Linked DNA regions of Homo sapiens. The protein of the gene in region 1 interacts with the protein of each later gene in a biochemical or structural test. Each region holds a gene or a part of one and is shown in the gene's direction. Other genes may lie near its edges.

Region 1 (7,633 bases):
AAGATATAGTTGGTTGTATCATGAGTGATCTATTTGCCACCATCAATGGCAGGAACTGAGGCTACATGAAAGTCTAGTTAGCTTTTTGTGAAGTCATGATTTAGTTTGCAAAGGAAGACGTAGAAGCTGATTTTAGAGTATGCTTCTTCCAAGTAAAGCTTGAAAATGCTTTATTTCAGTAAGCTCTAAACATCTTGAGAGTTCTTGAGATGATGTAATGGACATCTGGATTTTTTTTTTTTCTCCTGACAAGCATTAATGCCCTTCAATTTTTGGTGCATGACCAAAATAGTGTTTTGCCCATCTTTTATAGATGAACCCTTTTCCCATGGCATGCAATCTTGTTGGGACTATCCATCAAGATACTCCATCATCCTTTGGCCAGGATTGTGCCCAAGTTCCCTAAATAGCTACGTCAAAAGGACCCTGTCCTTTGAATTTGAACTCCAAGAGGGGTGGCAAAAAGATGAAAATGGTTGGAATTGATTTACTCACATGACATCAGCCTGAAGAGGTTCTCTGCTTACCATTATCCCAGAACTGTACTACTCCCCATTTTATCACAAAGTCAAGTTCAATGAGCCATCTCATAACCTGATAATACTTAAAATATCTTTTTTTTTGCTGAAATTTTCCATAGCTAGTTTTCTTGCTTGTAGACAAAGAACCCTTGCTGACATAGATATTTATACAGGAGGTATAAAATGATGAGAGTGGCTTGAAGCTGAAAATGCCACAAGATTTCAATTGATCATCCTGGTTAACACGGTGAAACCCCATCTCTACTAAAAATACAAAAAAATTAGCCAGGCATGGTGGCAGGTGCCTGTATTCCCAGCTACTTGGGAGGCTGAGGCAGGAGAATGACGTGAATCCCAGAGGTGGAGCTTGCAGTGAGCCGAGATCGCGCCACTGCACTCCAGCCTGGGTGACAAAGCGAGACACTGTCTCAAAAAAAAAAAAAAAAAAAAGAAAGATTTCAATTGATCCAACAACAAACAAAGTATTTGTGTTTTGTCATAGTTTTCAGGACACTAGCAAGTTTCCTTGAATAAGGAATGCCACCTTGTCTTTAAGGATCTATCATACAGCTAGGGGGAGTAAGTACAATGGCTACAGAAAAAAAATATATATTTAGGTTGACGCCAAAGTAATTGCGGTTTTGCTAGTACTTTTAAATGGCAAAAACTGCAATTACTTTTGTGCCAACCTAATAGTTCACTATAGCAACAGAAGAAATATCCCTAATGTCCAGTGCCTGACATGGCACTTGGCATATAGTAGGCATACTATAATTATGTATTAACTATTAAGTGAATGATTCAGTTAATAAGTGCAATGATGTTAGAACAAGAGAGATGGGCATGAGCTAAAACACCTACGAACAAGAAGGAATCTGAGCAAGGTTTCTTAGGGTGAATAGAATTCTTTGAAATAAGGAGATGGAAGCAAGGAATTCTAGCCCATGGACTTAATTTGCAAACAGTGCAAAACAACCTATTACGAAAAAAAAAAAAAAAGTCTGTGATAGGTTTAAGGAGAGTTGGGTCCTCAATCATCTGGCATCAAGAAAATCTTATTGCAAAGACACAGATTTTTATTATTCGTTACTGAATTTTGTCATAAGTAGCATGCTACTCTAATACATGTTGATTGCCTAGATAGCGGGAATAGTTCTTGTATATTTAAAATGTATTTACTTTTAAGTAATCAAGTTCCCCCTGCTTCCCCTTCCCCTGTAATCTTCCACCATTGTGGTCAGAACATGAGACTTATTGCTCAAAGAGGGGAGTATATGGCTTGGAGCTGCCACCCAATATGAAGGAAGAATCTTTCCTTTATTGGAGAAAGAGGCCAATGAATAAAGAGGAGGTTGCCGGGGAAAGCAAAGGCCAGGTAAAAACGTTTAATCCAAATCCCTCCCTTGGAGGTGAAACCCTGGAAGGCAGTTTGAGTTAGAAATAATAGAAATGTCCAGAAATGTTGGAAGAGGGGACTTGCAGGGCACCAGGATTTGGCCTTTACTTCCTGGGCAGAAGCCTTAGAAAAGGCTTGTGTTTGGTTGCTGCTGACCAACATGTCACTGAGTGTAAGATTCTGAGAGAAAGGGCACAGCATGTCTTGCATGCTGCTGGAGTACAAGGAAAGCATGCAGTTTCCAGAGTCCCCTGTGGGTGCAGAGCAGCCCAGAAAACTGGTGGGCAGGACAAGGCCTTTCTGGATGTCCAACAGCCCTGCTTTCTCCTAATCCATGGTCCCTCTGCTCAGATCCTTTTCCCAGTGTGAATTACCTCCTTACCCCTCCCTACCCAGGGAGCTTTAAAAAATATCCATGTGAAGAATCCACTACAGACTACTCAAATCAGAAACTCTGGGTGTTGGGGCCTGGTGTCAGTGTCAGATTTTTTTTTTTTTTTTTTTTTTTTGAGGCAGAGTTTCACTCTGTTCTGCCCAGGCTGTAGTGCAGTGGCACAATCTCCTCTCACTGCAATCTCTACCTCTCAGGTTCAAGCGATTCTAGTGCCTCAGCCTCCTGAGTAGCAAGATTTACAGGCATGCACCACCACACCTGGCTAATTTTTGTATTTTTAGTAGAGACAGGGTTTCACAATGTTGGTCGGGCTGCTATTGAACTACTGGTCTAAAGTGATCCACCCGCCTTGGTCTCCCAAAGTGCTGGGATTACAGGCCCAGGCATGAGCCACCATGCCCATCCTGGTGTCAGAATTTTTTTAAAGCCTCTTATTATTTTACTGCATAGCCAGGGTTGAGAACTGCTATCCTAAGTAGAGTCTAGTTATGTTTTAGACTTAAGTTAAATATCACTTCCTCAGGGATCCCTTTCCTGATCAGCCCTAGCCTAGGTCAAGTCCCCTTGTTATATATCCTCCAAGCAAGCACCCAGTACTTATCCTGTTTGGCGCTTAACAATTGGTCCATTATTTGTTTCAAGTCTGCCTTTCCTTGTTGACTACCTGCTGTGTGAGGGGAGACACATTTCTGCCCTTTTCACTAAATTGTTGAAGTCAGTCGTGTTCAAATTGTTGAACCTGCCTTGTTAAAATTGTTGAAGTCTAGTTCAACAATGCACTAAGTAGTACACAGTTCGTGCTCAGTAAAAACATCTTGAATGAATGATCTCCTTTACTCAGCCAGGAGTGTGTGACCAAGGCTCTCATTCATGAATCTGCTAAGAGACCTTTTGCAGGTGAGACCTTAAAGTACACCACATACATACTTACAGGACTATGGCTTTAGATCAGCTCATAGTTCCCACAGTTTTTCTGTTTCATCTTCATGTATCACAGCAGTTCAGCATGTCCATCATCACCATTACAACCCTGTGTGGTGGACACTACAAGTCCCATCTTGTATTTGGAAAGAAGTTGAATAACTTGCCCAGGTCTCTCTACCCTACTGTCTGGGCCCCTTTACAAACGGTTACAAATAAGGAAAATCCCTTTCAACAAGATACATTCCCAGGGTACCTGTTTGTGCTGAGCTTTTATTATTGGCTTGACAGCAGGCTGGTGGCTGCTTGCAGGGGATCTTCTGGGGGTCTCCAGTTACAGCAGCCAGGACCCAGTGTGCGACTTCAGGCCTTCCTAAACTGTTACAGGGTGCAGGCATCATTGGGCATTATCCATATAAGGATGCCACAAATACTATACCTTTCAAAGCCACTAAATTCACTGTGCCGCGCATATCCTGGGGAGAGGCAGCTGTGTGTGGGGGAGGGCGAGGGGACCGGGAGGGTGTAAGTAGAGTCCTCCAGATGAACCCCAGTCTTAATCTGGGCTGGGCAAGAGGACCATCCCTTCACCGCTCCCATCCTACATCCTAGGTTCCAACATTTACAGGCCCCTGGGTTGGACACCGACTTAGAGAGAGCACCCTGGATTCAGGCCTGGGTGGCTTGAATTGAGCCTCAGAAGAGCCGCGTCTGGAGTGGGCTCTCGACACCCAGGGCAAGTGGGGGCGGCAGAGCCCTCTCCTCGGTCGGCACAGCAGCCTCTGCCGCGGTCCCGGCCTGCGACGCGCCCAGTCTTAGCCTCCCGGCCTCCGGCGTCTGCTGAGTGTCCGGCGGGAGAGGCGCAGGGAGCGCGCTACCGGGAGGCGCGGGCAGCGGGGACTGGTTTTCTCTCGGGCCAGGGCCTCCGGGGCAACCGTCTCCAGCGCGCATTCTTGGTGCAGGTGGAACAGCTTTCTGCTCCGGTAGGGCTTCACCTATCGCGGGAGAGGTTAATCTCGGATCTAAACCTCGCAGCCGCAGAGCGGGCTAAAACCGCTACTCCACCTCTTCCCATTTCTCCCCTCCCCACCTCAAGACAAAAAGTCCCAGGCCGGGCAGGACCTGATCACCTCTGCCTCCTCCCACTGCGCTAATCCTGCGAGCGAGAGGCCCCGCACCGAGGCGGAGGCTGGCAAAGGGGAGTGGAAAGGGAGGATGGATGGGGCCGGGGGGTGGGGTGGTGATGAGGGCGACGAAGGAGGGGGTGTCATTTTCTTTTTCTTTCTTTTTTTAAAAAAAGTATTTCTCTCGCGAGAAACCGCTGCGCGGACGATACTTGAAGAGGTGGGGAAAGGAGGGGGCTGCGGGAGCCGCGGCAGAGACTGTGGGTGCCACAAGCGGACAGGAGCCACAGCTGGGACAGCTGCGAGCGGAGCCGAGCAGTGGCTGTAGCGGCCACGACTGGGAGCAGCCGCCGCCGCCTCCTCGGGAGTCGGAGCCGCCGCTTCTCCAGTGGGTGCAGCCGGGGTCCCGACGGGGGTCGGGCGGCCACCGGGGCTGGAGCTGCGGCCACGGAGGCTTTTGCGTTTGCGCCGCGCCGAGGGCAGGGACAGGGACTGGGGTGAGGGGCTGTCCCGGAACGTCCACAGCTGGCGCTGGCCCTCCCCTGCCTGACAGCTTCCTGGCCCGGGGCTCTTGGTGCCGGGCTCCGCGTCAGATGTTCGGGGGGCGGTGGCATCGCCCGGAGTCGGCGGGGACGGCGCGGCTGGCTTCCAGCCTGGCGGAGAGGGCAGGCTGAGGAGTGGGGCGTTCAGAGCGCGCATCGCGCGCAATTCGTGCCGCTAAAAAAAATAAACCCAGAGAGCTCGCCCGGGGCTTAGGACCGCTGGGGATATGGGTACTTTGCGCCGCGCTCTTCTGGCGGGGCCCGGGAGGCCGAGGGATCGGCCGGGGCTGCTGCCGCCGGGGGCCTGGGCTTTCCAGCCAGCTGTGGACCAAACGGTCTTCCCTTACCCAAATTAACTGCGCCACGCGCAGGCGGCGCACGGGTTGGGCTTGGGAATGGGGACCGCGAGGCTTCAGCATCCCGATGCCCTGAAAGTCTCCCCGCCTCGGGGATTTGTCTCTGTGTTGCAGCTGGCAGGGGCCGCCTGAAGTGGGAGCAGCGCCTGGAGAAGGCGGGAGGAGCCCGGCCCGGGGGACGGGCGGCGGGATAGCGGGACCCCGGCGGCGCGGTGCGCTTCAGGGCGCAGCGGCGGCCGCAGACCGAGCCCCGGGCGCGGCAAGAGGCGGCGGGAGCCGGTGGCGGCTCGGCATCATGCGTCGAGGGCGTCTGCTGGAGATCGCCCTGGGATTTACCGTGCTTTTAGCGTCCTACACGAGCCATGGGGCGGACGCCAATTTGGAGGCTGGGAACGTGAAGGAAACCAGAGCCAGTCGGGCCAAGAGAAGAGGCGGTGGAGGACACGACGCGCTTAAAGGGTAAAGGAACCGGTTCCCTCCTTTGGTGTGGGTCTCCCAAGTTTCAAGATCCAGAACAACGGGCAGGATGACTCTCCCTGTGGAAGACTCCTTGGCAAGACCTCCTGGGGGCACCTTAGAGGTGCTAGGGTTGTTTAGTCCCCACCCCGTTCGTGGTTAAACTACCTTGCCCCTACTCCCAGAGATTTCTGCCCCAAAGGAGAGGACGTGGTTAAATGGAATCTTGGGCCATTGTTGAGGCAGATTTTGGGAGGCGAGAAGAGTTCCTTGGGGAAGAAGGGGAGGAGTTGCGAGTGGGATAAGAGGAGAAGCCCGTTCCTTTCCCTGCAATATCAATTCTGGTTGTTTCTAGAGGAAAGTACTTTCCTTGGGGTCATCTTGGTAGATGCTGTATTTGAAAGGGGGCAAGGAAAGGAAGGGATTCCCATGACAGTCAGAGGAGAAATCACACAGTAGTTGACTCTTCCGTAAATTATGCTTATTAAAATTACGGATTGGGTTTTCTGGGCAATGCTTCCTTTAGATGTCTACATTGGAAGCAGAACAGGGCAAGTGGTTCTGAGAACTGGTTTTTTGAGTTGTGTGGGGCTCTCCGTTTCACTGCAGCAGTAAGGCTGCTGTGGCCGGCCTTAAGGGAGTATTTTTAACTAGTGGTGTTTGTGTTGTGTACATGCAACTGACCATTTCACTGGCTTCCCATGCCGCTGTTACAGATGTTTCAGCCGGAAAAATTTTAATTAGACTTGACTAAGGGTTGTCATTTTCCTGTATTGAAGGACAGTGGGAATACATTTCCTTTAAGAGAAATTTGTCTGCAGTTGTTTAAGTTAAAGCCTCCATGGAAACAACAGGATGGACTGTCAGTGACCCCTTTTATCTTCTTGGAGGAGCCTGTTAAATAAATTCAGACAGTATATATAGGGAGATTTTGTATTAAATTCTTACCATTCTCGCTGATGCTCTTTTCCTGAGTGGTTCTGTAGCTTTATTATATAGCTCTGGGTCACCAAGTGATGGTATCCACTTGGATATGTGGCTGTTCATTTCACTTACTCTTTTTTTGTTATGAGGTGTTATAGTCATGTATATGTAGTAAAATTTGTGTTTGTATGGCCCAGATATGAGAAGAAAAAGTAAACTCACCAGACCAGTTTTTGACTCCTAGTCTGGAGTAAGGACAAGATGATTGTATGAGCCAAGCACTTAGGCTGTGATAAAATAGCACAGAAAATAGTTATGATTAATTCGGTTCCATCTTGGCCTTCGTGGAAAATAAACCCAGAATTCCGATAATGTTGGAAGGAAGTTTGCTTATCATGGTAAACCTGACCTTGATCAGACAGCAGATGTTTATTGCCCTGTGTGCAAGGCACATGGCAAGTTCAATAAGTAGACTGAGGCTCTGATTTTCATATGTTCTCAAGAGGACCTCATTTAGTCCAGTATTTTTCCTTCAAAAATACATTTCTCCTACATAATAATATCTTAATATCTATTCTGATAGGATTGCTCCTGTATATAAAGGACGTGGGGATTTAATTCTGTGGCTGAAGATCTGCAGAGAGGTGTGAGGCCTGGTCAGACATTTGTCTCATTTCTCTGGGCTGTCACCAACTAGTGTGTTCCCTTGGGAATGTGAAAAAAGAAACTAAGCTTTACTTTGTTGCTTAACAGGATGCCACACTTTTACTCACACTTGTGCTTTTTCTCTCTGGTTTTAAATTTGTTTGTGATTATAGAGAGATACCTCTCTGTGCTCCTCACAGTATTTGATCATTAACACAGACCTTATCCTATTGTAAACTATTTATAAAGCCTTCCTAAAAACAGGGTATTAATAGAATTGTAATTATGTGTGTTCCTAATTCTCATGTTAATTATAAGATTTTATAATAAGTGATATATATATATACACACACA
Region 2 (7,000 bases), on another chromosome or scaffold:
ACATAACCCATCTACTACAAGATCCTGTTATCTTTTGAAATGGAAAATCTGAAGCCCAGCTTATTAAAGCTGTTGATAGGATACAGCAATTGACTTCAATAAAATTTACTCCAATGCATTACAGATAGGATTTCTTTAAAAGTCCATTACAGCCAAGATCATCTAAAGTTAGTTAGCATTAAATAGCATTTCATAAAGACCACACGTTTTTTATCACAAGCATTCAGAAACCATTCTCAAAGAAAGATGTAGATGATACATCCCATCAGCTCAGAAGGACCTTCTTCCATCTTTTAAAAGACCTGTATCAAGCCCAAGGTGGTTGCCTTTTCTATCCTAAATTTAAGGATTTTTGCATAAGGTAATTCTATCATTTGCCTTAGTAACTTGCCTGGGTGTTTATTTTCAGGAAATCCTCATGTGTGGCCTTAAACTTACTTCCTGAAATCCAAGCCAGTCCTCATTGTTTTTTCCTTATGTGGGAAGATGAACAGCTCAGCACCTTCCATTTAATGAAATAACAAAAGTAGATATAAGTCCCTTAATTTCCTGATAAAATAGGAATATTTTATTTCTAAATAAAAGTGTGTACTATTTAAATAATAATGGTGGATAAAACATGCCATGAGTTCTCCCTTGCTTTTCACTAATGATTTTAAATATGTGAGAACTCAATTTTTTAAAATCTCATAGAAACCTTGAAAAAGTCATGTGCTGCTTTTCGGAATGAAACATCAGCAGTGGCAGCCAAGGGGAATACACTAGAGAACACAGGGCAAGTTTCACTTAAGCACAGATAATTTATTGTCCATTTCTATTTAATATTCAAAGACAAAATGGGGTACAATAAGAAAGCAAAATACTGAACTAAGTCTTTTGTCCTAGTAGCAAAGTTAAACCTTACAATTTTGATAGACTTATGTCCTGGGGAAAAAAAAACCCTAGCATGAATCTCTCTTTTAGAAGATAAATTTGGTCTCAATTTTAATGTGAAAACAAATTTGTGAAGCCATGGGGGAAGTCATTTAATATCTTCATTGCTTTCTCTGTATGTAACTGACCACCATCTTTTTGTTTTGTGGGACATCAGACATTACCACAGTATGGATGAGTTTAGCCACTATGACCTGCTTGATGCCAACACCCAGAGGAGAGTGGCTGAAGGCCACAAAGCAAGTTTCTGTCTTGAAGACACATCCTGTGACTATGGCTACCACAGGCGATTTGCATGTACTGCACACACACAGGTATGTTGGCACCCTGAAATCCAGAACCTCAAGCCTCAGAGAGAAACGGGTCATCTACCGTTAGTTAGCATTAAATAGCATTTCATGAAGAGCACACACATTTTTATCAAAAGGATACAGAGACTGTTCTCAAAGAAAACTGTAGATGATATACCCCATGAGTCTAGTATTTTCTTTCCTCTCACCTCTCTTTTATAAAGCATTCAATTTGAGGTCCATGTTGTTAAGATGTAAAATAATTGGGAAAAGGCAAATGATGGCTTGATGATCCAAATTACTTTTGAAGTATTTCCAGTTATGCATGTGGCCCCTATTCATGATCACAGGTCAGTGTGGGTCCTTGTTACAGTCCACAATGAAGAACAAAAATTTACTCTCTGAAAAAGTCTGAATGGTTGACAACATATGCACCCATTCTGTATTCCTTAACCGGCTTAGTAAATAACTGTAAAAAAAGATATCTCTGTTTTTTCACCTGTGAAACCATTCCTTCCTTCTGTTTTATGCTGAAAATAGAATAGTGGTTGCGGTTAGCAAATGGAGGAAAAATAAGTTTCTTTAAAAGCACTTTAAAAAGTTGCCTCTTTTAATAATGCAAATAAGAGCAGAAGGACACCATTTCTTTCTCCACACATATATATTTAAATCTACAGTATAATTGATGTCAGATGTTGTTTGGATGGATTTTTTTAAAGTAGTGCTGAACTAAGCAGTTTGCATGTTTTATCATTGGAAAATGCGTGTCAGTTAAAATCTATGTCAGTATTTCCATATGAAACCCTAATTTGTAAAAGGACATTATAATTTGACTCCCGCCCAGATCTTGGCAAGGGGTAGTGAATGTACATAACTGAGGGTATGAAGGGATCAGCAGTTGGCATCTTGGGAAGCAAATTCCAGGGCTGTGGCAGGAAGCTGTTTGGTGACCTAAATGTTACCATTGCTTTTTTCTCTGAGCTTAGAACATCATAGCAATTGGAGGGGGAAAGGTTAACTTCTACATGCCCCAGGACAGTACTTACTTAAGAAAGAGGAGATGTAACTTACCCACACATTATTCATGTGTGCATATACAGATTCCCTTTTCAGTGATCTGCAAGTCCTGTGCAAGGGACCTAGAGTTTATTTGCCCCATTTACAAAAAGAGGCACTCTGGACAGCTCACTCTGAAATATTTGAAGCTGGGATTGTAGACATTATAGCACTTCTGGTTCCCCCCCTTCTTTGGGGTGACCCCATTTCATTTTATATGGTAGCTTTCTTGTTAATCATCTTCCATATATGTTCTTTTTAACCATTATTCACCAAATCTTGCATTGAGCGATTTATATATTTGTTTTTTTCATTAGATCAATGTCTCTTTCACATGGACTTCATTTAAAGGAAAAAATAGTCTCTCAATCACCTAATGATGACTCAGATTAGTTTATTGTAATGCTGCTTAAATGTATTCAAGCATAAAACTAGGTATAACTTCTTTAGATTTATACTTTTACATATTAATAACTCTTGTGTTCTGAGACAAAAATTTACATATTAAATATATACGAAACTAAAACAGTTGAATTCACCTTATTAATTTAATGTAACAAATAGTATGTATTGCTAAAACTCAAATTGCTGATTTAGAGAGCCTCAGCTAACATTCAACATTGAATCTGTTTTTATATTTTGACTTTGCCTACATGAAATGCCTATTTGCCTTAGTAACTCGTTTTTGCTTGCTTGTGCAAATAATCAAAGCTTATACTTAAGTTCTGCCAGCTTATGAACTCGAGTGCCAATTTCAGCATTTTTAAGGCTCTTTTGTCTATTTGAAGGCAAGATAAGCACTGAAGCATTATGTAAACCCATCTTAAATGAATATCTAATCCAGTGAATCCTTTACAATGTCATGAACATTGTGGTAGTAGTAGAAGTAATAACTAGCACTTATTGAGTATGTATTATATGCCAGAATCAGAATTGTATGCTGGAATCAGACCAAAAATTCTTCATTTTATATTTACTACTCAACATACTGTTAAGTGATGTATGGATCAAGGTAGGAATCTAGATAATAACAACAGAATATGAGTCTCACTGCTGTGACACTGACCCTTCTGAGTTGGGCCTGTCTGTGCTATTGTGTGCTCTATGACAGCACAATTCTCCCCTGCTCTTCCCAAATCAAGCTACAGCTAAACCAGCATTGGTAGAGCATGCTAAGGTGATTTTACTGTCTCTTGGGTGACCAAAGTGATCTTAAACAGCAAAGCAATATTGGTTGCTAGAATTGAATGGCAGTATTGAGTTAAAATGAATCTAGCATGTACTTTGAATTTAAATTACTATTAGAATAAAAATACAAGTTAAAACTTTTTGTGAAGAACTAATGGAATCAAGAATATACCTACAGACTCCAATCTGAGGAAACTTCTCTAGACTATAACATTCTTAAAAGCAAGGATTGTATTTGTTATATTTTTCTCCTCCCAGCCTGTAGAAGGCATTCATTTACTTATTGATGTGAATATTTTAGCAAGTGGAGTGATGTGGCATTCATCAATTTAGTCATGCATTTACCCCTTCAACAAAATATGTCATATTTCAGTGACTGTATGAGAGAGAGTATAGTGGGGTAGTTAAGAACAGGGACTCTGGACCTTGATTACCTAAACTCAAAACCAGCTTAGCCACTTACTAGGCTGGATACCCTTGGGTAAGTTATTTGATCTTAGTGTGCCTTAGTTTTCTCATCTATAAAATGGAGATAATAGCCCCTCATGTAGTTGTGAAAATTGAATTTTTATACACACACACACACACACACACACACATATAAATGTTTACGATTGTTCCTGCCACATACTATTTAATAAATGTTAGTTATTCAAAGATACAACGTAAACTCTACCCTTAGGGAACTTGCAGCCTCTGGTTAGCTATATTCTTACATAGCATGTTATAATGCAGAGCAAAAAGGGATAAACACTGTAAAAGCTATCCACAATAAAAAGTATCATGGACGTTCAAAGCACAAGAAGGTAATTTCCAAAAGGGGAAACTGGGGAGGATTTCACTGAGAAGAGGACATTTGAGCTAAGATAATTATTATGTGGCCTTTATTCCTGAACTGTTAAAATTCTAGAACTTTGGTAGAGGCCTATTTTGTTCCTTCAGATTGCATTTATCTCTGGTGATATATGACACTTTTAAGAAGTGAGGTGTACTACTACTTATATTAGTCCTGTATCTTTTTTAGCTGGAGGTGCTATAAGGCTGAGTAATAAATACTTCTCAAGGGAGATGAAATATAAGTATAGTTTTATGTCAGACTCTTGTAAGTACTAACTTAAAATTTAATTTGCAAATAATAGCATATTATTTATCATAGTCTGACCACATACCATAATTTTAAATTTTTTATTTTGTTTATCTTAGGGATTGAGTCCTGGCTGTTATGATACCTATGGTGCAGACATAGACTGCCAGTGGATTGATATTACAGATGTAAAACCTGGAAACTATATCCTAAAGGTAAAGACCTTTGAAAATATATCATATATTGATATTGCAGATCAATAGGCCCTCTTCTCTGGATTCAAATGTTAAATAATCATGGTATTGGAAGCAATTATACATCCTCAAACTATTTATAAACAATCTAATCTAATCTAATCTGTCTTATTTTAAAGAACTTCAGGGGAAAATATGCAGTCTCTTTCCATAACGTCTCCAGAGTTTAACCACTTACTTAAGTTAAAATCCCTTCCCTGCTTGATTTAGCTAAGTCCTCATTAACAATTTCCTTATTGTAGCCCTATGGAAAAAGAAATACTGAGGAACTCTTTGTGTTGCCCAGGTCAGTGTAAACCCCAGCTACCTGGTTCCTGAATCTGACTATACCAACAATGTTGTGCGCTGTGACATTCGCTACACAGGACATCATGCGTATGCCTCAGGCTGCACAATTTCACCGTAAGTGTTATTTGCTTAGCTAAGTAATTGTTGTCACAAATAATTTTTGTTCATGCCAAACATTATACATAGAATGTATCTGTTTCTGCTACTACAGCAGCTTTCTTGTAAGCAGACCAAAGGCAGAAAATGGTATGCAGTCTGATTTTATTTTTTTAAATAATGGAAGGCAAAGGAGAATGTACTAAGGTTTTTAGTTTTCAGGAGAAGCTTAGTTTTCAGGAGAAGACATAAACAGACCACAGTGTTTACCCAGAAGGCATTTGTGAAGGCCCAATATATCAAATTGCTCAATATGTAGAGTGGGTGAGCTTGTAGAAGCCCCAGTAGTTGCTTCTTGGCCCCTTCCTCGCAGTCCCTGAAAGAATTGCTAGGGTTCTTCAAAGTACATTTTGAAAACCACTGCCATAAAGTAAGCAACTGAAGAGTTCAGCCCCCTCTGGTCTGTACAAATCAAGATGTCATATATTTGAGTTCTAGAACCATTGATACTAGGAAAATACTCTGCAAAAGATTGAGGTGTGTGGAGGTTTCTTCATAATATTCCTACTCCTGAGACTCTTCTTAGAATGAAATACTGGAAGATATCTATTCACAGGGAGGTGCTCTGATGAAAATAATGAAAAAAGGTTGGGTAGGTTTGACTGCATGCCTGTCTGTCCTGCCCCATCTCCTTAAGCACTACCTCCCCAAGTGTTGCTGGGTGCTAGATTATAATTACATATGCCACTTGAGTTATGCCTTCCCAACAATGAGAATACTATTTCCATTGGAATGATACTCAACACTCATCAGCTTTGCTTTGTCACTGGAGAACCACCAGTGCCACTGGATCATACAGACAGGTATAGCAGAGCTATACTAGAATCTCATAATTAATAGAAATTTCTGCCTGATACAAAAACCCAGGACTTTCTACATAAAGAAGCAGAGACTGTGCTTTACAAGTGTTGTCACAACATTAGAGATAGATGAAGCCTGTGATAGCAAAAGGATAGCACTGAAAAAACAGAGTCACATACATTCTTCTGAACATGCCCACAGCACAGAAAACCTGGCAGGTTTTATGGCCCATATTGTGTGGAGTTGGTTATAGTAGAACCAACCCCCGACCCCCACCGCCAGAACACCATTATAATTTAAGCTAAAATAATTTGCACTTAAATAAACAGATTAGTTTTTTCTTAATTTTTATAATTCCTTAATTTATTCATCCATTCTCCATTTATTTATTCATTTGCACTCTCATTTTTGTACTGTTTGTTGATGCCCTGAGCTAGATATTACTGAATAATGCAAACATAAATAGGACTACTAATCTCTATACTGCTGTAGCCTTATTACACTATTTTCAGTTAATTACTTATGAATTTCTTTGTTTAATGTCTGTCTCCTGCTCTACTCAGTGATGGCTGTGATTTAGTCTCTTGTCCACTGTTGTATACCCATTGTCAGGTACAGGTCTGCCACCTTGCAGCCTCTCACTCACTGCTTAATGAATTTCTTTCTCAAATAATTTGAGTAAAGGCATTTTGAGTAGGGGAAGTGAGAGAATTACACATATAACTGTAATAGAGATACAATATGAGAAGTTTCATGAGGGATAAAATAAAATGTGGTGAGATCAGAAGGACCTTTGCTATAAGTTTGGTAACTCCCAACTATGTCTTACTGACTTCCCACTAGAAATAGGTCTGGAGAGGTCTGTTGCATAGAATGTCTCTTGCTTTTAATCAGTAGAATCCATTGAATTGGGTATTGCTAGATATTTAGAAGAAATAAAAATTGTTGTA

What was found. The genes of interacting proteins can lie anywhere in the genome.
Region 2: the proteins of FBN1 (region 1) and LOX form a complex in vitro, tested with the Homo sapiens proteins (one study listed by IntAct).

What each region holds. Positions count from the first base shown.
Region 1 is NC_000015.10:48,642,686-48,650,318, reverse strand, and holds the start of FBN1 (fibrillin-1 isoform a preproprotein), read left to right. Parts: upstream 1-4,609; 5' UTR 4,610-4,744; intron 4,745-5,348; exon of another isoform or gene 5,349-5,368; 5' UTR 5,369-5,549; coding exon 5,550-5,713; intron 5,714-7,217; coding exon of another isoform or gene 7,218-7,284; exon of another isoform or gene 7,285-7,633.
Region 2 is NC_000005.10:122,068,260-122,075,259, reverse strand, and holds part of LOX (protein-lysine 6-oxidase isoform 1 preproprotein), read left to right. Parts: intron 1-1,090; coding exon 1,091-1,247; intron 1,248-4,670; coding exon 4,671-4,766; intron 4,767-5,091; coding exon 5,092-5,207; intron 5,208-7,000. UniProt on the Homo sapiens protein: Responsible for the post-translational oxidative deamination of peptidyl lysine residues in precursors to fibrous collagen and elastin. Regulator of Ras expression. May play a role in tumor suppression. Plays a role in the aortic wall architecture.